7 linked regions of the Homo sapiens genome follow. The protein of the gene in region 2 purifies or fractionates together with the protein of the main gene of each other region. This does not show direct contact. Each region holds a gene or a part of one and is shown on either strand. Other genes may lie near its edges. The genes, in order: VAMP4, VPS50, ANKRD22, SDF4, STX12, STX6 and PPP2R3C.

Region 1 (3,500 bases), on a different chromosome or scaffold from region 2:
TTATTGATCATCTTCCAGGATATTAATGCTTTGCAAGCATCTCTGGGTAAGTGACTAAAGATTTCCTTGGGGCAATAGGAAAGAGGCTCAGATTCTTCTAACCGATGATTTAAAAAATATTTCAGCATGCTTTGTGCACGCTGATCACTGAATATTCATCAGGAGCTTTCAGTCAGCTTTTACTGGATGCATATCAAGTCTGTGTTGTTTTACACTGGGTTCCTTTATAGGTTCACAATTGGTATCATTTACTTTAACAAATTGACATTTATTCTCTGAATGGGTTTAGTATTTCGCCAAACCTTCTGCTTTGTAAAGACATGCTTTTTTTTTCTTTCTGAGATGGAATTTCACTCTGTCACCCAAGCTGGAGTGCAATGGCACAATCTCGGCTCACTGCAACCTCTGCCTCCCAGATTCAAGCAATTCTCCTGCCTCAGCCTCCCAGGTAGCTGGGATTACAGGTGTGCACCACCGCACCTGGCTAATTTTTGTACTTCTGCTAGAGATGGGGTTTCACTATGTTGGCCAGACTGGTCTTGAATTCCTGACCTCAAGTGATCTGCCCGCCTCGGCCTCCCAAAGTGCTGGGATTACAGGCGCGAGCCACCACGCCTGGCCAAGACATGCTTTTGATAGTAAATCTTCAGTGTATGGAATTCCAGCACAGGTATATCAAATTTTCTGAATCACTTTTTCTTGGAGGTTTATCTTGAAAGATATTACATTAAAGAAAGAGACCCTGGATTATCCCTGAGTGATTTCTCAATCCCTGATCATCCTCTGCCTTCTCTCGGCCAGAGCCTTCCGGGTTCACCCAGACTTGGTATATTTCAAGGCATTTCTCAATTCCTTGCATGGGGAACTAGCTCAAGCAGACACTAAGAGTTTCACCATGGCATGGAGGAAAAGATAGGTGACCAAAATGGTTGAAACTGCACCAAATGCTAGTAAGCAGTTGAAATTATGGCAAAGAAGGAGTAACTGGATTTGGCAACATGGAAATCATTGGTGACTCCTTAAAGTTTATTAGTAAAAGCTTGCTAGCAATTAATCTATTGGTGGATTCTATTTCCCCATTAAAAAACAAAACAAAACAAAACAAAACAAAACAAAACAAAACAAAACAGGCCGAGTGCAGTGTCAAATGTCTGTAATCCCAGCACTTTGGGAGGCCAAGGCAGGTGGATTACTTGAGCTCAGGAATTTGAGACCAGCCTGGGCAACACGGCAAAACCCCATCTTTACGAGAAAAACAAAAACTAGCTGGGCATGATATCATGCACCTGTAGTCTTTGCTACTCAGGAGGCTGGGGTGGGAGGATAGCTTGGGCCCAAAAGGTGGAGGCTGCAGTGAGCTGTGATTGCACCACTGCACTTCAGCCTCAATGACAGAGCGAGACCCTGGTCTCAAAAAATAAAAACAAACCATCAGAAACACACAAAACCGCAAAAGCTGTACAAAGGGTTAGAATAAGGGGAAGAAAATGTTTCCTGTGTTGTACTAAAAGAAACTTATGACTAAAAGTCATAAGATGGTGGACAGAGTGGATAATATGAAGTTCTGAGGTTGTCCAAAAAGAGCATGTAAAACAAAGCAGACTAAAAGCTTTGCAAGGGCACAGACTATGTCTTCCAATTTTTAGCCCAGTGCCTAGCACATAGGAGGTGGTCAATACATATTTGTTGAATGAATCAAGACAAGAAGGAAAGGAAGGAGGGCTTCAGAATGGTGCATTAAAAAAATAAGAACGTGAATTATTTCCCCCAATAAATATGTATTGAGTACTTATTCTAAAAGTAATCTGCCTACAACATTCATATAAAATGTTGTCTTTTAAATGCGGCATAATTTCTAGATTTATATATATTTGCATAGAATGTTCTGGAATAAACTAGAAATTGAAGCATTATATAAAAGATACTCTGGAACATAAGATAATTACAGGTCTGGGGACCTTTATTTGCAATTCCAAAATCTAAAAGCTTCTGAAAATCAAAAAGTTTTGGAGGAAAATTTGACCTGAACTGATGTTAGCTAGTTTATTTACACACTTTATTTACATAGTTAGTTAGATATAACTAAATATAGACTTCACTGAGAAATATTAATATTTTTGGAGGCACTGGTCCAGGCCCCAAAAATGCTGTTACATAATATGTTCTTAACTTTCTAAAATCTGAAAAATTCCAAATACATTCAAAGTTCTGAATAAGATATTGTGTATTTGTATAAAACTCCCTTTCAAAAACTAGAAAGAAGCTATGAGAATAATGATTTGATCAATAATGGAAGTAGAATTCAGTTGTCACCAATCTAAGTAACATGTTTTTAAATACATTTGCTATGAAGAAAACAATTAGGATTAGAATATAGTCATAAGCTTTTGATTTTTCTGTTGTTATTATTATTAGTTAATTAATTTTTGAGACAGGGTCTTGCTCTGTTGCTCAGGCTGGAGTGCAGATCACAGTTCACCACAGCCTTCATCTCCCAGGCTCAGGTGATCCTCCTGCCTTAGCCTCTTGAATAGCTGGAACCATAGGCATGTGCTACCATGCCCCATTAATTTTTTAAAAATTATTTATAGAGACAGGGTCTCCCTGGGTTGTCCAAGACAGTCTTGAACTTCTGGGCTCAAGCTATTCTGCTTCAGCGTCCCAAGTGCGGCGATTGCAGGCATGAGCAACCACGCCCGGATGGTTTTTCTTCTATTATTCACAAAGGGAATGAAAACATATTTTGAATCTTTTGTTTTTAAAGCTTAAGATTCCGAACTTACCCTTTCACTTTTCACAGAACCTGTGACATCATCATCATTGAGGTGGCGCTTAAACTTGGGAGGCATATTTTTTACTTGCAAAGTATCTTTTGCTTCTCAACAGGATAGTCACCACCTTAAAGAGAAAATAAATTTCATCAGATTTGAGACTTTGGGGCATAAGCTAATGTACTTAAAACAGTGTACATGAAACCCTGTATGACAGGGACTCCCTCATTTTTCTGACTTCAATTCCTGCCCTCTCACTTGTTCCACTCCAGTGACTGGGGCCTCCATGCTAGACCTCAACACCTAAGAAATAGTTAAAATTATGAGAAAATGGATGTAATTGCCCTAAGAGAACATGTGTAGGATATGAGTGATTTAAGATTTTTATAAAATGAAAGAGCAGAGAGTAGAGGGAGGACGTCTCACTGAGACATTAAATGCTTTACAATTTAAAGTTGGAGTCAGAAGACAGGAGAACATGCCTATTTCTCTCACTTTTAGTTGGTTGCTTAAGCAATGATTCAGTTTCCTCAGGTGTAAAATACTGATTTTCAGGCTTCTGCAGAGTTGGGACGGTCAAATTGGATAATACATGCAAAAATATTCTGCAAACTATAATGTCCCATTGGTACTCCATGAAAAGGGGTAAGTTTGGTAAGTACTGGTGTGATATCGTGATTTACAAAATATACTCATTTGGTCTTAATCCCCATTTCCTGACATATCCTT
Region 2 (3,500 bases):
AGTTGTTCTTCTGTTGTTGGAGATTTTTTTTTTAACTAAAGTGTTTACAAAATGTAGAGGGCCAGAAAAATACTTCATCAGTAGCATTTAAAAAATTTGAAATGTCAGTGTATTTTGATGACTCAATAACAAAGACTATTACAGAAACAAGTGTAAAGTGTGTGATCATCAAAGCAGTAAGAAGCATACGCATGTCAGATTGCTTTGCCATATTAAAACAGATTCTAGTGCTTACTGTTTCAAATGTGTACTATAGTATTCTTATTCTCTCCTATTACAGCTCAGTAAACAATTTGCCTTCCATGTCCCAACTGTAATTTCCACTGTTTTTCACTGGTTTATAATGCTCAGTAACTATCCACTGCACCTGAATATCCGCCTGTTCTTTTGTTGCACTGATCAGATACATTCCTTTTAGGGTACTAAATTTGGATCTTTCTTCTTTGAGCAGGAATATTCAACGAAGCAGCTGACCAATCTGGTGAATGTTTGCCTGGGATCCCATATCAATAAGAAAGCAAGACAAAAACTTCTAGCAGCTATAGATGATATAGACAGACCTAAAAGATAATGAACACAGCTCTCTTTCCTCAATGGCATTGATCCTCACTCAACATATATGACCTGAAAGCCAGTTTTTTTATGCACTTCTGACAACTATCTGCTAAGAAAACTTTGTGCATGTTTTTTTGACTGGAAAGTGGAAAATATTGAAATGTGTGTGGTGTTCTCATGACTTTTATATGCTGTGGTCTCTTCAACTTTTGGTCTCATTTGTTGTAATCTGAAATGATGTTGCCGCCTTGTCATAACAATGGTTATGTGACTACAGTTATACATTTTACAGAAGAATGTACCATAAGTATATAATTAGAAGAACAGTGGCTTAATATATGTATGGGAAGTTTATGGAAAATGAAGTTGGCACTTTTCTACCCTCTGAGCTTGGTTCTTAATAAGCATAATGTGAGGGTGAATATGTAGTATCTCCTAATTATGAGCACTGCATGAGAATTAAAAAACACATGTAAGTAAAATAGTTGAAAAATCAGTATGTTCTCTGTTTTTAAAATGTCAAAGTTTATGTCAGGGTTAATTTAGTTATAACAAAGTGATCATAATGGTGAAATTTAATAAATATACTCTAGTATGATCAGCCTATGTGAGACTACATTTTGATTTTTTGTGTGGCATGCAGATGTCATGAACTATAGTGCAGCTTTTAGTGTGTTCTAATTTTAATTGTTTTATATCCTGAAACCAATGGTGAAAAGTAATTTCATTGAGGGTACCTTTTCAATGCCTGAGTAGCATACAGAATCATGATTATGAGACTTTCTTTTATCTTTCTTTATAAAAATATGTGGTTTTTTTGTTGAAAGTTTTGGTCTCTTTAAATTCAGATTTTGTCTTAGGACAGTAAAACCCAGGTTGACTGACTCAGGAAACAGTTGTCTGCTAGTCACTCATAAATGTACGGTCATATGTTCACTCTTCTTAAATATCCACCTTTTATAACACAAATGTAAAATAGTATCAGTCTAGCCAATGATGAACTCTGGAATCCACTTAGTCTTCAGTAAGTATGTGCTGTTCCTCTAAACTTTGCCCTGAAGCCAGGGATCTTCTCCTAATGTATGTGACATAAAAATCCATTTTCCATGTACTCTTGCCAACTGTCTGATAAGGAATTTTGTGTGTGTTCTTTCTGACTGGAGAGTGGAGGACATCTAAGCTTGTGTGGCATTGGTCCAATGATTGCCATGCATGACCTGTAACATCAACAGCTCACAGAATCCTAAGGAATCATGTGAGAAACAGGCCTTGGGTCTTATGAGTCTTCTGGGACCTAAGGTGATAAAATGGATGGCACAGAATGGCATGTGATCAAGCATGGAGGTGATAAGGAAACAATTGCTACTCTGTGTCCATCAGTCCCTGCGATGTCTGTAAATGCACAGTGTAATGTGAAGCACTTTCAGAATATGTTTGTGTGTGTCTGTATGCTGAGTGTTTTCTTTTCATCCTCTCATGTCGGAGTTCATTTACTGTCAATTTAAAACTTTCCTCTTGTAAAAAGGTATGAGTTTGGTGCCATTATGATTTGGTTGTGGCTAGATTATATACTTGTGAAGTAGATTCTGCCTGTAGCCATTATTTATATGCAGCCACTTGAAGAAAACAAACATGAGATAAGCTTGGTCCTTGAGTTTAAATGGCATATTTAGCTGGGCACATAAAGAGCTAATCAATCTTTTAAAATTTGCAGTTGATGAAGAGCTGCTTATTTTTCTCTTCTACATGGATTTTATAGTTGGTTTCCTTTAATTTCTACTTTAGTTGGCCCTAGATAATATGAACAGGAATCACCTGCCTGGTAGAGCCCAGTGTTTTCCAAGGTAATAGGAATTGATACAAAAGAATTACTTATCTTGTTAGAGACTCGACCATGCAATCTGACAGACCTTTTAACCTACCCTTACTTTGCTTTCTCCATCTTCAAAATGAAATGGTGGATCTTTTTAATGCTTTTTGAAAAAGGTTTTTTTTTTTTTTTTTTTTCATTAAAAGGTAGCTTAATAAGTGCTAGCTAGCATCAAAACAGTAACAGGAGGTTTGAGTCATGAAGTTACCTAATCACAAGAGAGTTACCAGACATTTCTCAAATACTTTATACAGTAATATTGAGTTATAACCATGTAACATTTTATGAAACTAATTTTCAGATAAATACAATTGAAAAGCTGAGAATGTAAATGGAATTATACGTGTTCCAAAAACTATCATTACCAAAAATTTATTATTTTTGAGTCTAAACTTTCCTTAACTTTGACATTTTCCATGAAAGTTTCCTGTAGAATTTACCATGGGAGCATGGTAAATTAGCATTCCCTGAGAAAGAATGATCATTTCTACAAATACATTGTCTTGCATTTAAAAATGCTAGGGGGGCACATAGCAATTCAAATGAACTAGTTTGCTTTGGTTTATAAAACCAACAGAGATTTTGTAAGTTCACTTTAACTAATAAACTCATTTACACAACTTATTAAATGAATTTCTCTTGAAACCAGGGCCATATGGTATTTTATCATATCTTTAAATAAAATTTCGAAATTTCTATTTAGCTGAGTGCTAAAGTGAAACTTTGTTAGATTAAATAGCTTTTTCTTAACTCACCAAAAAGTAGTAAAAGGCTTGTAATTCAATTCACCTTGTAAGCATAGTTGTCTTTTGTAATAAAAAACTAGATCTGAAGATGAATTGATGAATACAAGTTGTGCTCAAAGCACATAGAAGTACAGGGTGGGGGGGATTTCCATATATATACATATATATATATTATATATATATTTCTTTTTGGAATAATTTTGATTCGGATTAGTGGTTAACAAAATGATATTTAGCTTCTGACAATGATTAATGATGAGAATTATTAATAGTCTGGTATAATCTTTGTAAATGTTAAGACTGGTGCAGCTTTCTACAGATTTTTTCTT
Region 3 (3,500 bases), on a different chromosome or scaffold from region 2:
TATTGGAAAAGCTGGTACAGTTGAGGAGGAGAAGTCAGGGAATACAGGAATAGAGATGTGACTAATTGAATGGCCATTGGACTGAAAGTCAAGCAATCCTATATTTTAGACCTGATTGTGCCAGGAACTTCAAGGGATTTGAGAGGAAGTCATTTAACCTCTCTGAGTCACAGTTTTAATATTACAAAACAAGAGAGCTGAATGAGATCTGGTTTCACATTTAACATCGTGTCATTCTGTGATATGAGAAAGGCTAGGCAGAGACAATGGGGAAAAAATTGCATTCTCACAATCTTCCCAGCTCTCTCCATCTACCTTGTTTATGTATGAACTCCTAGCAAGATTTTGGTATTCAACAACATATGCAAGAAGAGCATCAGGCGTTTTCATCCCAACTGGTTTTCTAATTCTTTCCTTGTATATTGAAAGTAATTTTACAAATTAAAATGTTGTGCTAAGTCACAAAAGTTCAGAGAGAAAATGATAACTTTCACATATGAAAAGACACCAGGATTGAAAATGTGTATACCTTTATTTATTTATTCATTCACCCATCCATTTGTTTAATCAACCATATTTATTGAGTACATACTATGTTTCAGGCATCTTCTAGTTCCTGGTGTATATATGTATATATATATGTATATATACATATATACATATATATATACACATATATACATATATATATATACACGCATATATGTTGGGCATCCCTAATCTGAAAATTTGAGTGGAAGTGCTCCAAAACTCCAAATTTTTGAGCACAAACATGAAACAAGTAGAAAATTTCCTACTTGACCTCATGTGATGGGTCACAGTCAAAATGCAGGTACACAATGCACAGTTTACTCAGAATTAACAAGAGAAAAAAGAATTTCCCAGCCCCTTTCGGCTGTGATATATCTTTTTCTTGAACACCCAGTTTTTCCCATGAAAGCAAGTCCACAAAGGGTAAAAAATGGCACCTGTGCAGGATGAATGAGCCTATAGCAGATTTGCCACTCTGCCTCCATGGGGCCAAGATTTGTGTGTATTTCTCTGTGTGTGTCTTTTTTTGTTTTTTGGGGTTTTTTTTTATTTTGTTTTTGTTTTGCTTTTTCTCTACTCTGTGATGTAAATATACTGTTGAAAATATCAAAAAGGTCTGCAGATACTTATGGGTAACAGTGATAAGAAAAAAAAAGGAAGCATTTATGTATACTTATAACACAGAAAGTCAAGCTTTTGGATAAATTGGACAGTGGTATAGGTATAAAATGTCTGATAGAAGAGTATGGTGTTGAGGCCAGGCGCAGTGGCTCATGCCTGTAATTCCAGCACTTTGGGAAGCTGAGGCAGGTGGATCACCTGAGGTTGGGAGTTTGAGACCAGCCTGGCCAACAAGGTGAAACCCTGTCTCTACTAAAAACAGAAAAATTAGCTGGGTGTGGAGGCATGTGCCTGTAATCCCAGCTACTTGGGAGGCTGAGGCAGGAAAATTGCTTGAACCTGGGAGGCAGAGGTTGTAGTGAGCTGAGATCACATCACTGCACTCCAGCCTGGGCAACAGAGTGAGTCTCCATCTCAAAAAAGTAACAATAAAAAAAGAGTATGGTGTTGAAATGACCACCATATATGACTCAAAGAAATAGAAGGATAAACTGTTTAAGTCCTATGCTGAAGTTAATGAAAAATGTAAAAAAACATTCCACAAAGCTACAAATGAAGATCCCAATTGTGTATTGAGAAAGTGGATCCATCAGTATCACAAAGAACACATGCCACTTAATGGTATGCTGATCATGAAACAGGAAAAGATCTATCACGATGAACTGAAAATTTAAAAGAACTGCGAATATGCGTAGTTCTTTGGCATAAATTTAAGAAAAAACATGGCATTAAATTTTCAAATATTTGTAGTGACGAAACATCTGCTGATCAGAAAGCAGCAGAGAAATTTATTGATGAGTTTGCCAAGATCATCACTGATAAAAATTCTCACACTAGATCAAGTCTATAGTGCTGATGAAACATCACTGTTTTGGCATTATTGCTTCAGAAAGACACTGACTTCAGCCGATGAGACAGGCCTTGTGGGCAATCAGGATACCAAGGACAGGATAATTGCGCTGGGATGTGCTAATGCAGCAGGCACACACAAATGTAAACCTGCTGTAATAGGCAAAAGCTTGAATTCTCACTATTTTCAAAGAGTAAATTTCTTACTAGTCCATTATCATGCTAACAAAAGGCATGGGTCACCAGGGACATCTTTTGTGATTGTTTTCACAACATTTTGTAGCAATGGCTCATGCTCACTGCAGGGAAGCTGGACTGGATGAAGGCTGCAAGATTTTGTTATTCCTTGACAACTTTTATGCTTATTCTTCAGCTAAAATTCTCATCAAAAGTAATACTTATTCCATGTGCTTTTCCCCAAATGTGACTTTATTAATTTAGCCATGTGAGAATGGTGTCCTTAGATCAATCAGTGTAAATATAAAACATTTTCGTAAACAGTATGTTATCAGCAGTGAACATAGGTGTGGGTGTTTCGCATAAAGGATGTTGTATATGCTGTTGCCAATGCTTGTAATGCAGTAACTAAAGACAGTTGTGCATACCTGGCATAACCTCTGTCCTGCAACTATGTTCAGTAAGTATTATAAATAAAGTGACTTTGAATGATTCTGTATGTCAAATGAGAAAAAAAAAAGATGTCTGACCATACATACGCAAAAAAAAGTACCTTCAGAGTCCACCAGTAAGTTGGAAGAAGTTGATATTGAAGAAATTTTTAACACTGATAATGAGGCTCCAGTTGTTCATTTATTAACCAATGGTGAAATAGCTGAAATGGTTCTGAATCAAGATGATTGTGATAATAGCAATAATGACGATGGTGGTTAACACTGTAAAGACTTTGTCAGGGGCCAGATCAGGCAGGTCTTGTAGGCCAAGGTGAAAAATTTAGATTTTATGCAAAACACAATGGAAAGCGGGTAAAGGATCTTAAGAGAGGAATAATATGACCATTAGGGTTTAAAAAGGCCACTCTGGTAGCATGGGAGAATAAATTTGAGAGATGCCAGAGGGAAAGCTGGATCTTGGAAGGAAGCTGTTACAGTAGTTTATGGAGTGATAATGATGGTTGCATTAGACTAATGGGTGAATTTTAGATAAATTTTTAACTAAAAGATTTCCTGGTTTGTAGGTTGGCAGTGAAGGAAAGTAAGAAATTAAAGTTGATACTCAGTATTCTGCCTTAGGCCAGCCAGTGGATGGTGGTGCTGATGAGATGGGAACACTCAGAGAGGGGCAGAAGGAAAGACACATTTCAGGGTTCTATTTGGACATGGTACTTTAGCGATATCCATGAGACATCTAGGTGGGGATGGAAGATGAATACAGGAAATGTACCTTTAAGGAGAGGCTCGGGCAAGAGATAATAATTTAGGAGTTGTCTGCATATACATGGTATTTAACGCCAAGAGAAGGGATGAGTTTAGACATGGAAA
Region 4 (2,786 bases), on a different chromosome or scaffold from region 2:
CGGTCACATGGGCACCACAGGGCAGACTGAAGAGGACACACTCCCGGCTTCCCTGAGCTCCCACTGGGAGAGCCAGGACACAGCCTGGGCCCCCACACGCCACAGAGCAGGACCCCCACCAGCCGTCCTAACACACCCCATTCTCTGCCCCATCTGGGGCTAGGCCTGCCCCACTGCACCCAAAGACCTTGCCATCCTCCACCCAAAACCCCCAGGCGGCTCTGTCTCCTGCCTTAAATGTCCAAACCCCAAACTCAGTGGGCACGTCTGCTGCCCCCTGACCCCTACTCACAAACGCAGCGCTGCCCTCCGTCCTCCCAGAGCCCCTGCCCGTTGCCACCTGCCAGGAGAATCACCTCGAACCGGCCATGACCTCCAACCCTCCACGTGACCCAGCACCAGCCTCCAGCGCTCCAGTGGAAACTGTAACCACAAACCTAGCACGCTGCTGTTGTGTTTTGTTTCACGCCCAAAGAATGAAGCTGACCAAAAAAGGCAACTATATTTAAAGTAAATGTATGTGATTCTTGTCACAACAAATATTTGCATTTTCTCAGCGGCAGCTGCGGGACCTGGGTGGCTCCGACACGCCAGGCCCGGGAAGGACCCGGCACCCTCCCCTGAACTTCCTGGCTACTCATTTCCAGCGAAGTTTAATCTATTTTTAATAATCGTTCAGTTTTCAAGGAAATGGAGGAGCTGTTTTTTCCCACGGAGCGGCGGCCCTGGGAGGGGCCGGGCCCAGAGGTTCCGGCCGCGATGCCGTCAGCGCCTTCGGCAGAGTGACTGAAGCGAGATTTCGTTCTCAGAAGTGAGATGCCACGATTTCGAGGGACCAGGGAGGAGGCGGCGCCGCGGGGCCACAGCCCAGCCCCGCGCCCCGACCGCGTCACAGCCAAAGCCCCGCCGGGGTGCGCGCTGCAGAGGGGACACGCCGCTCATCAACTGGGGCAGCCGCGGTCGGTCGGCCGGTGGCGGGCGGCAGGGAAGAGGTGGGGTCCGGGACAGCCACGGAGCCCGGAGTCACCCGCGAGGCCGCCCCGGTGGTGCGTGGGGGGCGGCGCGGGGCGCGGCCGGGCGCTCAAAACTCCTCGTGCACGCTGCGCGCGTAGTCCACCAGCTTGCTGCCCGTGAAGAACTCGCTGTACTTGAGCACCTCCTCGGGCTCCAGGTGGTGGTTCTGGTTCTCGTCGGCGACGGCGATCATCTGCTTGGCCTCGTTCAGCGCGTTGTACTCGTTCATGGGGTCCATGTAGCTCTGCGGGCGAGCGGGGCACAGGTCAGCGTCGCCTTTCCCCCTCCGAGCTCCGCGGCCAGCCGCACGAAGTGGCTATTTAAGGTGCCTATTGGCTGCAGCGGGAGTGTGGGCACGTTCTGGAAGGTTCCCGAAGGGAGGCGGCACAAATGAAAACACAGGGCAGGGAGAAGCCGGGGGCCCCGGAAGGCCTGCCCGGGGCCAGCAGGGGTAACGGGGCACAGGGGCTACACAGGCCTGGACCCCAGTTCTGAAGGATCCCTAACCTGGGCCGGGCCCACTGGCTGTCGCCAGGAATCACAGGATTCTACATAAAAACAAGATGACTCACTCAGCAGTGGGAGAAAAACAAGCCTACACATGATACCAGTGAAAACGCTTCAGAGGAAGGTGGTAAATTCCAGCCATGTGGCACAGGCCGCCCCGCCCACCTGCACCTGCTGGGCCTTGGACCTGCCTCCATGCTGGGCCCAGCATGAGCTTCCCCTTGTGGTCCCGTTAAAAAGGGGCTGTGAGAACCCTGACGCCTCCGCAAGGGGCTGAGGATGGAGCCCGGCCAGGCTCGCCTGTCTCTGATCCGTCTGAACCTAAACGCCAACAACGGCCATGCAGCCTGGTGGACACCGCTGAGCAAACGCCCCAGTGACCAGCCCAGATGGAGTCTCAGGCCAGACACCAGCACAGCTTCCTGCCTCAGGCCCAGATCCACCAGCCCCTCCCGCCACAGCACCTCGCAGGGCCGGCTCCGGGACACGGCTGCGCCAGGGCTCACCTCCAGCTCCTCGGCGGTCACGATGCCGTCGTGGTTGGAGTCAATGAGCTCCTCAAACTCCTTTTTTCTGTCTTTCACCCAGTTGTCGTCAATGTCCTGGCCCTGCTGGTTCTCCACGGTGCCCACGGGCAGGGAGATGAACTCGGGCACAGAGAGCTGCTTGTCACCGTCCTGGTCTGCGAGACGGGAATGGGTCAGCCCACACCCAGGCTGGGGCTCCCGCAGGACCTGCCCCGACCTCCCGACGATGCCCGGCCCCTGCCAGTCGGTCCTGGGTCCTGGCGTGCCGGCCAGGCTGGACCCAGCCTCACCCAGGTCCCGGACGATCTCCTTCACCATGAACCTGAGCATTCCCCGGCTGTGCTCGGGGTGGAGGAACGACAGGAACTCCTCCTCCGTCAGCAGCAGGTCTGCAGGGGGGCTGTCCGCCTGGTACCAGCGGTCCTTCAGGTTCTCCAGGACTTCCTGTGCTGAGAGGGGCGCAGCCTGTGGGTATCGAGGCCGACAGACGCCAGCACGCAAATCCAGAAAGTTCCGAGAGGTGCTGCCTGAACTCGAGGGACACAGCCACCCGCGAGACCGGGGCCCCACCCTCCAGGATTCACACGTCCCCAGAACATGGCCCAGCCCCTAAGACACAGCCTGGACCCCCGCCAAGACATAACCCAGAGCCTCCCACAGGCCTGATCCCCAAAGGCATAGCTTGGACCCCTCCACACAGCCCGGACTCCCCAAGACAGCCTGGACCCCCCCCTGCCC
Region 5 (3,500 bases), on a different chromosome or scaffold from region 2:
ACCACCACACCCGGCTAATTTTTTGTGTTTTTAGTAGACACGGGGTTTTACCATGTTGGTCAGGCTGGTCTTGAACTCCAGACCTCAGGTGAGCCACTCGCCTCAGCCTCCCAAAGTGCTGGGATTACAGGCATGAGCCACCGCGCCCGGCTAGTAATTTTTCTTTGAAGGAAGGATTATTATTATTATTTGAGACAGAGTCTTGCTCTGTTGCCCAGGCTGGATTGCAGTGGCACGATCATGGCTCACTGCAGCCTTGATCTCCTGGGCTCAAGTGATCTTCTGCCTCAGGCTCCTGAGTAGCTGGGACCACAGGTACATGTTACAGCACCCGGTTAATTTTTTATTTTTTGTAGAGGTAAGGTCTTGCTACACTGCCCAGGCTGTCTTGAATTCCTGGGCTCAAGCAATCATCCTGCCTCAGCCTCCAACTTGCCGGGATTACAGGCATGAGCCATTGCACTTAGCCATATTTCTAATGTTAGACAATTAATTCAATTAGTAGTAGCAGTAGGTGAAAAAGAGTAAAGATATGACATTTTTGAAGGCAATAAAATAATCATAACTTAAGGATAAACTATCCCATCTAAAAACAGACAAGACCAGCCTGGCCAAAATGGCAAAACCTCGTCTCTACTAAAAATACAAAAATTAGCCAGGAGTGGTGGCGGGCACCTATAATCTTTGCTACTCAGGAGGCTGAGGCAGGAGAATCGCTTGAACCCAGGAAGTGGAGGTTGCAGTGAGCCAAGAACGCGCCACTGCACTCCTGCCTGGGTGACAGAGTAAGACTCTGACTCAAAAAATAAATAATAAATAGATAAAAACAGACATTGATGGCCTTTAGGGCAGTGGGTCTCAACCCTGGCTGCATATTATAATCACCTGGGGGAACTTTTTAAAAAAATACCCATGCCCAGGGCCTCACGCCCAGAAATTATGATTTATTAGTTTGAACCATATAAAATAATGGATATTTGCCCATTTTTAACATATAATAAACAGGAATTTCACATTATCCCATCAGGTAATTAGTGGTGGATGAGAGCTGGGGCATTAAAAAAAAATCTTCTCCAGGTGATCCTCATGTGCACTCACAGTTCAGAACCACTGCTACAGATGGAGGCCAAGGAAGAGCTCAAAATTTCCCTCTCTCCTTTTCTCCTCCCCTGATCCCAGCAATGGCAGCCTTCTACCTTCGGAGAAAACTAAACTGGAGAAAACTCAGGTTTAAGGATATTTTAGCTGGGCACAGTGGTTCATGCCAGTAATCCCAGCACTTTGGGAGGCTGAAGCAGGCAGATCACTTGAGGTCAGAAGTTCAAGACCAGCCTGGCCAAAATGGCAAAACCCTGTCTCTACTAAAAATACAAAAATTAGCCGAGTGTGGTGGTGCGTACTGGTAGTCTCGGCTATTCAGGAGGCTGAGGCAGGAGAATCACTTGAACCCAGGAGAGGGAGGCTGCAGTAAGCTGAGATAGTGTCATTGCACTCCTGCCTGGGCGACAGAGCAAGACTTAGTCTCGGAAAAAAAAAAAAAAGGATATTTTATTAGTCACTGTGCAAAATTAAAGTTGAAAGCTCAGTTAGGTAAGAAAGGCCTACAGACTTCTCCCTCAACCTCCACCTCAAAAACTGTTCCTATTTCTCTGACTCACTGAAGGGATAAGATGTACAACTTGGGATTAGACTTTAGGATATACAAAAATGGAGCAAGACTTTTGGCCTGCCTTTATTCTGGGCTCTTCAGACTAAGCAAAGGGGCTCTCCATGGAGTCCTGCCTAACCCGGAGGTTGGCATTGAGATTTGAGGTCAAAGTTCTAATGAGCAATAAAATATCTGTCTGCCTTGTTCTGTTCTCCATGTACATTTCTCCAGGAGAAATAAGATGTGGTGATCCGTATAAGATGTGGTGATTGAGGAAAGGATTTGAGTACTCCTGGGCACCAAGGCCAATGCCATTATAACAGTAGTTCATGCCAGGAGCGGTGACTCACGCCTGTAATCCCAGCACTTTGGGAGGCCGATGAGGGTGGATCACCTGAGGTCGTGAGTTCAAGACCAGCCTGACCAACATGGAGAAACCCCGTCTCTACTAAAAATACAAAATTAGCTGGGCGTGGTGGCACATGCCTGTAATCCCAGCTACTCGAGAGTCTGAGGCAGGAGAATCGCTCGAACCCAGGAGGCAGAGGTTGCAGTGAGCCAAGATCACACCACTGCACTCCAGCCTGGGCAACAAGAGCGAAATTCCATCCAAGATAAAAAAAAAAACAAAAAAAACCGGTAGTTCAAACCCACCATGATTACACTGAGACAGAAAAAATACAAATCACACAATGACACATTTTATGCCTTTTCATAATCACTAAGAGAATTAAAGTGAACTAAGGAGTTCAGATACCTGCAGACACACTGAGTCAAACAAAAAACATGACGTGGCTCTCACCTCCAGCTGCCGAATTGCCGTTTCTCTTTCTTTAATAAGTTCCAAATCCTGCTCAGTGATGGCCACCTCATCCTCCTGGCTCTGCATCTGGTTCCACTCCTCATGGCTGCAGGGAAACAGGCACACTAGGTGATTTCTCCTCTCAAAGGCATAACAAGACATATCTCCAACATCTCTACTGCCAGCAGAACCTATGCAAAGACATTACCAGGGCTCCAGTCCTCTGCTATCAATAAAGTCTTGGAGGGCCACATTCTTCATATCCAGAAGCAAAGAGCTGATGATATCAGGAAAACAAAGACTCAGCTTCCATGGGCAAAGCTGACATGTGGCAGAATTATGACGGATGGGACTCCTGGCTGTTTCCATTTAGGGGTATACTCTGTAATCTCACTGGGGCTTGCCAGACAAGGAAAGTAGCCAGAGATTTGAACTCATTGAATTATGTTGCACCATCATCTTCCAGGGCACTCTCAAAGTGCAAGCTGCATTAGTACCTTCAGTACTAAGTGGGTGGAGAAGAGCAAGCTAAGTGACCTATCAGTGCTTTGCCAGTTAGTTCAACAGAATCACATCTCCTAGTTTTCCAAAATTTCCTTGGGGTTATGCTTTGGGTTAAATACCTCTTAACAGGCCAGGCGCGGTGGCTCATGCCTGTAATCCTAGCACTTTGGGAGGCCGAGGCAGGAGGACTGCTTGAGGCCAGGAGTTCAAGACCAACCTGGCTAACATAGCAAAACCCTCATCTCTATTAAAAAACAATCCATAAAAAACCCTCTTAACAGAAAGCTAGTGAAATGTTATAACACTTTTTAAAAAATTCTTTTTAGAAATGGGGGTCTTGCTTTGTTGCCCAGGCTGGTCTCAAACTCCTGGCTTTAAGCTATCCTCCTGCCTCAACCTGCCAAAGTGCTGTGATTACAGGCTTGAGCCACCATGCCTGGCTTTTTTTTTTTTTTTTGAGACGGAGTTTCGCTCTTTCATCCAGGCCGGAGTGAAGTGGCGCTTACTTCACTCCGCCCCCCGGGTTCAAGAGATTCTCCTGCCTCA
Region 6 (3,500 bases), on a different chromosome or scaffold from region 2:
GTCAAGCAACAAGTCCCAATAAAATATGGTTCATCTGCCAAAGGAACAACAAATGTCCTGGTTATTTATGCTTCTGTTCCCATTTCACACTGTCTTCCAAGCTGAATGAATGAGACATCATAAACCCCAGTGCTTCCCACTCATAATTCTTACATTTCAAGGTCATCTGTGCTCACACTGGATACTTCACCCTTTTTGATTAACCAAAGCCATTTCCATCTTGACTTACAATTGACTGTAAACAATTCTTACATTGGAGCAGGTTCGGTTTTTTCATGGAGAGGGTAATAGTTCTAACTTTTAAAGTCAGAGAATGTTAGTGAGGATTATTTCATAGATAAAACTGAGATCCAGGGAGGTTGAATGACTTACCATGGTTAAGATTTATTAAGGTCACAGCTTAGCCTAGAACTCAGGTTCCCTTACCCCTTATATTCACCATTATTCTGCCATATACTGCAAAACCTCTTGATCCTAAAGTAAAACCAAAGTCACTTCTAGGATATATTTCTAAAACACAAAAATTTCACATGTGGAATCTTTGATGTATAGGTGACTCCACAAGAGTAAAAATGATTACCTCAAAAATATGAAAGCTATTTACACAAAAATGTGAGTATTTTGGTTCTTCACTAAAAACTGCCAGCAAAACTGGATTTGTACAGACTTAAAAGATGCTTGGAAAAACATACACAAAACTCTAAACAAGGAAAGCTTACTAAAGGCATAACCAATGGACATTAATCAAGAAGAAACAGGCGATTTACTTCTTCAGGTTGAAGCAAATAAAGAAAAAAAAAACCACAAAATGCATAGAGTATCACTGACTCCCCTGCCTACAAAAGAGAAAGCATAAGTAGAATACACTGTTTGAAAGATAAAGTCAATCAAAATTTTGGAGCAATATTAAATGAAAGCCCACTAGTAATAGTAACAGAAGAACTAACATAAATTTGTACAAATTCCTAATTTGAACTTCATTTCATCTCATTTTCCAAATCTGCTAACCCTCTGCTCCCTCTCTATCGAGCTCTTCCACCCAGAACCCAGAAATCTCTACATACAAACACTGTTTAGCTAAATGTGGTAATGTGGAATTATACAAGGTATATTTTATTTTTAATCGAGTTAGCACCATTGCTATTTCCTCCTCTTCTATAGGACTTTCAACTAGAATTTATTACAATCAGATCAGCAAAAGCTCAGTTAGGTACTGTTAGCCTACCACTGGTAAATACTAACAGCTTCCCCCAAAGGGGTCATAAATTTAAACAAGAATGATTTAAAACCCTAAAATATTCAGGTGGATCACATAGTTGAGTATGGTTTAGATCTCAACTCTAAAAGGACAGTAAGATTTTGAAGTACTGACTTGATTTGGAATACCTCTCATTACTCTGTTCTCACATTGCTATAAAGAACTGCCCGAGACTGGGTAATTTATAAGAGAAAGAGGTTTAATTGACTCACAGTTCAGCATGGCTGGGGAAGCCTCAGGAAACTTACAATCATGGCAGAAGGAGAAGCAAGGCAACTTCTTCACAAGGCAGCAGGGAAGAGTGACAGAGCAAAGTGGGAAGAGCCCCTTATAAAACCATCAGCTATCATGAGACTCACTCACTATCATGAGAACAGCATGTGGGAAACTGCCCCCATGATTCAATTACCTCCACCTGGTCTCTCCTTTGACACATGGGGATTATGGGGATTACAATTCAAGATGAGATTTTGGGTGGGGAAACAGCTAAATCATATCAACCTCTTTCTAAGAATGTACTTTAAAAAGCTTTTCAGATATTAGAAAATGAACTTTGGATTCTTCTTTCCATTATACCAATGAACTTAATTTTTAATATACGAACCTCTAAATTTCAATTTGCAAACTTCCTAAGTCTACCTTGCAGAAATAAATATAATGATTAAGGTTAAGGACATATGCTTCACTGCAAGGCCCCACTTAAATATTAACGTCTATAGGAGTATCCTTCAAAAAACCTACTACTACAAAAAAAAAAAAAAAAAAGCTTATACAAAATAATTGGGGATTTACTTATCTTACAAAAAATATGTCACCTAACAACAAGGCTTCCTCATCAGAACAGTATTTTGAACTGGCTAGAAATTAAGAATGTCCAATCCAAACACTCACTGTGGATGGGGCATCTGAGGTCCAGAAAGGTTTCTCCCTCATTAAAATGTGGGTTTATCTATAAACAATTTACGTATATGTATATAGAAAGGCAACTAATGAATAAAACAAGTAACAAGAATATATAAAGTTCAGTGATAATCTACCATTTGAAATAATTTCAAAAGGAAATCACATGATATAAAGACTTTGGCAAACACAAACTAAGGTTCCTGCCTAAGATGACTCTTAAAAAGCCGTATGTTAGCACTGGTATGATCCCAAGTCTTTTTATTCAAGGAAGCTGCTTTCTAGTACATATGTTAAAGACAGCTGGTTCTCTTACATCTAGTTATGCTAATCAAATGGCTTAGCCATATAGTTTCAAAATATGAAACATTTTAATGACACAAGATTGTACTTAATATTTTTTCTCAGATTCTTTAATAATGGGTATTATTCTAAATAACTTAGAACTAAAGATTTGTTCACTTGGATCAATTTTTTACACTCTGATAGATGCTTGTTTGCTCTGGATAACTCTGGAACGGCTGTCAAGTAGTTACATATGGAAATGTCAGTATCTTGGGTTGCAAGAGTTCCAGAAGCAATTCAGATGGCGGAAGAGGCCGCTATCCAAACCCACTAAGAGTCACTCTTCAACAATGCGAAGTGATTACCAATCAATCAAAAAACCAAATGGTTTCTACAATAGCAATTGTTTTGTTCGTCAAGAAATAGAGTACACTAAGAAATAAAAAGTGAGAAAGATAACTAGCTTGAAGAAACTAGAGGTATGGACAAGGGTCTAATCATTCAGGATGACACCATTTGAATGTACCCTGCCCAAAGCCAGCAGATTACTGTCTCATTTTTGCTCTCGGAAATAAGCCTGACAGGCTGGGCATGGTGGCTCACGCCAGTAATCCCAGTACTTTGAGAGGCTGAGGCAGGCAAACTACTTGAGTTCAGGAGTTCAAGACCAGCCTGAGCAACATGGTGAACCCTGTCTCTACAAAAAATTAGCCTGGTGTGGTGGTGCACGCCTGTAGTCCCAGCTATTTGGGAGGCAGAGGTTGTAGTCAGCCAAGATCATGCCACTACATTTCAGCCTGGTCAACACAGTGAGACCTTGTGTCAAAAAAAGAAAGATTAAAAACAGATTTCTTTTTCTTCAATCACGGAAATTTTTTTTTTTTTTTAAGGTACAGTGACGTGATCATAGCTCTCAGCCTCAACCTGATCCTCCCACCTCAGCCTCCCATCTTGGTCTTCCATGTAGTTGAGACAACAGGTGTGCACCACCATGCCCAGCTAATTTTTATATTTTTTTTTTGTAGAGACAGGGTTTCATCATGTTGCCCGGACTGGT
Region 7 (3,500 bases), on a different chromosome or scaffold from region 2:
ATTGTCCACATTTTATGTGTAAGGCAACTGAGACTTTGCTAGGTTACATATTTAAAAGTGGCATTCAAACTCCAATCTGGGCTAGGTGTGGTGGCTCACACCTGTAATCCCAGCACTTTGGGAGGCTGAGGTGAGAAATCACTGGTGCCTAGGAGTTCAAGACCAGCCCTGGCAAGACAGACCTCTTCTGTACAAAAAAGCAGCAGCAGCCAGGCGCAGTGGCTCACACCTGTAATCCCAGCACGTTGGGAGGCTAAGATGGGTGAATCATCTGAGGTCAGGTGTTCAAGACCAGCCTGGCCAACATAGTGAAACCCCATCTCTACTAAAAATAGAAAAAATTAGCTGGATGTGGTGGTGGGTGCCTGTATTCCCAGCTACTTAGGAGGCTGAGGCAGGAGAATCGCTTGAACCCAGGAGGCAGAGATTGCAGTGAGCTGAAATCACACCATTGCACTCCAGCCTGGGCAACAAGAGCGAAACTCTGTCTCAAAAAAAAAAAAAAAAAGAACAAGAACAAGACAAAACAAACTCTGCTCTTAAACCACACCTGTTTACCTGCGTATTGCTTTCTAGTCCAGAACCTGCCAAAAATAAATGGAGACAGTGTCCCTGTTCGTGTACCAGCAGTACTATATCTATAATCACAACTTTTTTGAAAATCTGACATCAGTATAATTTTAGAATTTACCACTTAGATTTATATAGTTGAGGTATACAAGTAGAGATGTTATTAAATGTTGCCTGTAGGTTTCTCTTTTTTTTTTGCAGGGTGGGGATGGAGTTTTGCTCTTGTTCCCTAGGCTGTAGTACAATGGCTTGATCTCAGCTCACTGCAACCTCTGCCTCCCAGGTTCAAGCGATTCTCCTGCCTCAGCCTCCAGAGTAGCTGGGATTACAGGCGCCCTCCACCACACCCAGCTAATTTTTTGTGTTTTTAGTAGAGATGGGGTTTCACCATGTTGGCCAGGCTGGTCTGGAACTCCTGACCTCAGGTGATCCACCTGCCTCAGCTTCCCAAAGTGCTGGAATTACGCGGTGAGCCACCGCGCCCAGCCGAGATTTCCCTTTTTGTAGCAATATGTAATAAGGACTTTGGAGCATAAGAGCTAGAAGCTTTAAAATATCAATTGTGTGATTGCTCTTGTTAAAAAAATTTTTTTTTAATTAATTGAGTTGCTCTTTTCTTAAAATGAAATTAATTGTGTTTCTTTATGTTCTTAAAGGAAAGATAAAAATTCAAGATATTTTAGCATGCAGCTTCCTAGATGATTTATTGGAGGTAAATGTTTTTAAACTACTTAATTGTATCACTTGACAGTTGCTATCTTCTAATTATGTCTTTGTGTTCCATTAGCTAAGGGATGAGGAACTGTCCAAGGAGAGTCAAGAAACAAATTGGTTTTCTGCTCCTTCTGCCCTAAGAGTTTATGGTATGTTCCTATCATAATGCTAAAATTTGAATTATCCATTCTTCAGGAAATTGGTGTTCAGAGGACAGTTTTATACATACACTGATATACCTTAAGATCAAAATATTTAATTACCTTAAGCTTTAGTATTCTACATTACCAAAATTTACTTGTTTAAATACCGATGTTTTAACTTTTTGGACTCCCCCCAACCTTTTCTTTTTGAAGACAGGGTCTCACTCTGTCACACTGGCTGGAGTGCAGTGACATGATCACGGCTCAGTGCAGCCTTGAAGTCCTAGGCTCAATCCTCTCACCTCAGTGCCCCTACCCCACCCACCCCACCACCCCCAGTACTGGGTCTACAGGCGCCATGCCTGGCTAATTTATTTTATGTTTTTTTAGAGATGGGATCTCACTGTGTTGCCCAGGCTGGTTTCAAACTCCTGGGCTCAAGCAGTCCACCTGCCCTGACCTCCCAAAGTGTTGGGATTATAGGCATGAGGCACTGCACCCAGCAGAACCCTTTTTAAGTTATACACTTCCTTTTCAATAGAACAGAATGTAATTTGATCCTTGTTGACTCAGGAGCATCATTATGAACATTAGCTATTGTCATGCTTTGTTGATAAAATGCTATTCCCAGGGTCTACTGATGGAGCTAATCTACATTATCTTGTTGGGTGGTCTTTTGACTCCTTTGGCTTTTTTTTTTTTTTTTTTTTTTGGAGATAGAGTCTTGCACTGTTACCTGGGCTGGAGTCCAGTGGCATGATCTCGGCTCACTGCAACCTCCACCTCCCAGGTTCAAGTGATTCTCCTTGCCTCAGCCTCCCAAGTACCTGGGATTACAGGCGCTCGCCACCACACCCGGCTAATGTTTTTTTTTTTTGTTTTTTTTTTTAGTAGAGACGGTGTTTCACTATGTTGGCCAGGCTGGTCTGGAACTCCTGACCTCTGATCTGCCCTCCTCAGCCTCCCAAAGTGCTGGGATTACCGGCGTGAGCCACCACGCCCGACCTCCTTTTGGCATTCTTATCTCTACTTTCAAGTGCTAGCATTTCAGTGCTTTTTGTTGGCCTCTACCTCCATTTAATTTAGAAACCTAGGAATGTTTAAAAAGACTGCAAACTGAAAACAAATAATGATGTAAGTGAAACAGCCCAGAGACTATGGCCTTCATGATGGGTTTTTTTGGCTGTTTCTAGCCCAAGGGTTTTTCTGATCAAGATTGCAAAGGTAGCTGATAGTATTACACATAGGCCACTACCCTAATCATAACATGAATAGTTTGAAAATCAAAATATTAACCAAGAAAAAACTTTTTGTTAGTCTATTCTTCTGATTAAAATTTTATTGTGGTCATAAGTGTCTTTATTATTTTTCTTCCCAAGGCCAGTACTTGAATCTTGATAAAGATCACAATGGCATGCTCAGTAAAGAAGAACTCTCACGCTATGGAACAGCTACCATGACCAATGTCTTCTTAGACCGTGTTTTCCAGGAGTGTCTCACTTATGATGGAGAAATGGTAGTAGTTTAAATCTGCTGCTAAGTTTTAAAAGTTTAGGCTCCCAGAGTTTCCACAAACCCTTTTCTTGATGTAATACAGCCCTTTTTTTTTTGAGACAGAGTCTTGCTCTGTCGCCTAGGCTAGAGTGCAGTGGTGTGATCTCCGCTCAATGCAACCTCCACTTCCTAGGTTCAAGTGATTCTCCTGCCTCAGCCTCCGGAGTAGCTGGGATTATGGGTGCATGCCACTGCATCCAGCTAATTTTTGTACTTTTAGGAGAGATGGGGTTTCACCAGGTTGGCCAGGCTGGTCTTGAACTCCTGACCTCAGGTGATCTGCCTCCCAAAGTGCTGGGATTACGAGGCGTGAGCCACCACACTCGGCCCAGCATTATTGATATCACTGTGTAACAGTGTCTTTAAAATGTGTAAACTGATCAAATTACTTGAGATTCAGAGTCTTTGGTCTTAACGTAAATTAAAACATCTGCATTATGGCCTCAGGGCAAATAGAAAAGCTTATTGTTCATTTCATTGTCAGTGCACCTACTGTACAGTAGTGCATTCTAGTTTTTT

What was found.
Region 1: the proteins of VPS50 (region 2) and VAMP4 purify together in Homo sapiens (pull-down; one study listed by IntAct). This does not show direct contact.
Region 3: the proteins of VPS50 (region 2) and ANKRD22 purify together in Homo sapiens (co-immunoprecipitation; one large-scale study listed by IntAct). This does not show direct contact.
Region 4: the proteins of VPS50 (region 2) and SDF4 purify together in Homo sapiens (affinity purification with mass spectrometry; one large-scale study listed by BioGRID and IntAct). This does not show direct contact.
Region 5: the proteins of VPS50 (region 2) and STX12 purify together in Homo sapiens (pull-down; one study listed by IntAct). This does not show direct contact.
Region 6: the proteins of VPS50 (region 2) and STX6 purify together in Homo sapiens (pull-down; one study listed by IntAct). This does not show direct contact.
Region 7: the proteins of VPS50 (region 2) and PPP2R3C purify together in Homo sapiens (affinity purification with mass spectrometry, with the first as the bait; one large-scale study listed by BioGRID). This does not show direct contact.

What each region holds. Positions count from the first base shown.
Region 1 is NC_000001.11:171,735,566-171,739,065, forward strand, and holds part of VAMP4 (vesicle-associated membrane protein 4), read right to left. Parts: intron 2,899-3,500; 5' UTR 2,850-2,898; coding exon 2,784-2,849; intron 1-2,783. UniProt on the Homo sapiens protein: Involved in the pathway that functions to remove an inhibitor (probably synaptotagmin-4) of calcium-triggered exocytosis during the maturation of secretory granules.
Region 2 is NC_000007.14:93,357,866-93,361,365, forward strand, and holds the end of VPS50 (syndetin), read left to right. Parts: intron 1-451; coding exon 452-571; 3' UTR 572-3,258; downstream 3,259-3,500.
Region 3 is NC_000010.11:88,845,345-88,848,844, reverse strand, and holds part of ANKRD22 (ankyrin repeat domain-containing protein 22), read left to right. Parts: intron 1-3,500.
Region 4 is NC_000001.11:1,216,431-1,219,216, forward strand, and holds the end of SDF4 (45 kDa calcium-binding protein isoform 2 precursor), read right to left. Parts: exon of another isoform or gene 2,504-2,786; intron 2,498-2,503; coding exon 2,339-2,497; intron 2,204-2,338; coding exon 2,028-2,203; intron 1,375-2,027; coding exon of another isoform or gene 1,259-1,374; coding exon 1,082-1,258; 3' UTR 501-1,081; downstream 1-500. UniProt on the Homo sapiens protein: May regulate calcium-dependent activities in the endoplasmic reticulum lumen or post-ER compartment. Isoform 5 may be involved in the exocytosis of zymogens by pancreatic acini.
Region 5 is NC_000001.11:27,811,219-27,814,718, reverse strand, and holds part of STX12 (syntaxin-12), read right to left. Parts: intron 2,557-3,500; coding exon 2,451-2,556; intron 1-2,450. UniProt on the Homo sapiens protein: SNARE promoting fusion of transport vesicles with target membranes. Together with SNARE STX6, promotes movement of vesicles from endosomes to the cell membrane, and may therefore function in the endocytic recycling pathway.
Region 6 is NC_000001.11:180,998,871-181,002,370, forward strand, and holds part of STX6 (syntaxin-6), read right to left. Parts: intron 1-3,500. UniProt on the Homo sapiens protein: SNARE promoting movement of transport vesicles to target membranes. Targets endosomes to the trans-Golgi network, and may therefore function in retrograde trafficking.
Region 7 is NC_000014.9:35,094,491-35,097,990, reverse strand, and holds part of PPP2R3C (serine/threonine-protein phosphatase 2A regulatory subunit B'' subunit gamma), read left to right. Parts: intron 1-1,226; coding exon 1,227-1,282; intron 1,283-1,357; coding exon 1,358-1,433; intron 1,434-2,806; coding exon 2,807-2,943; intron 2,944-3,500. UniProt on the Homo sapiens protein: May regulate MCM3AP phosphorylation through phosphatase recruitment. May act as a negative regulator of ABCB1 expression and function through the dephosphorylation of ABCB1 by TFPI2/PPP2R3C complex.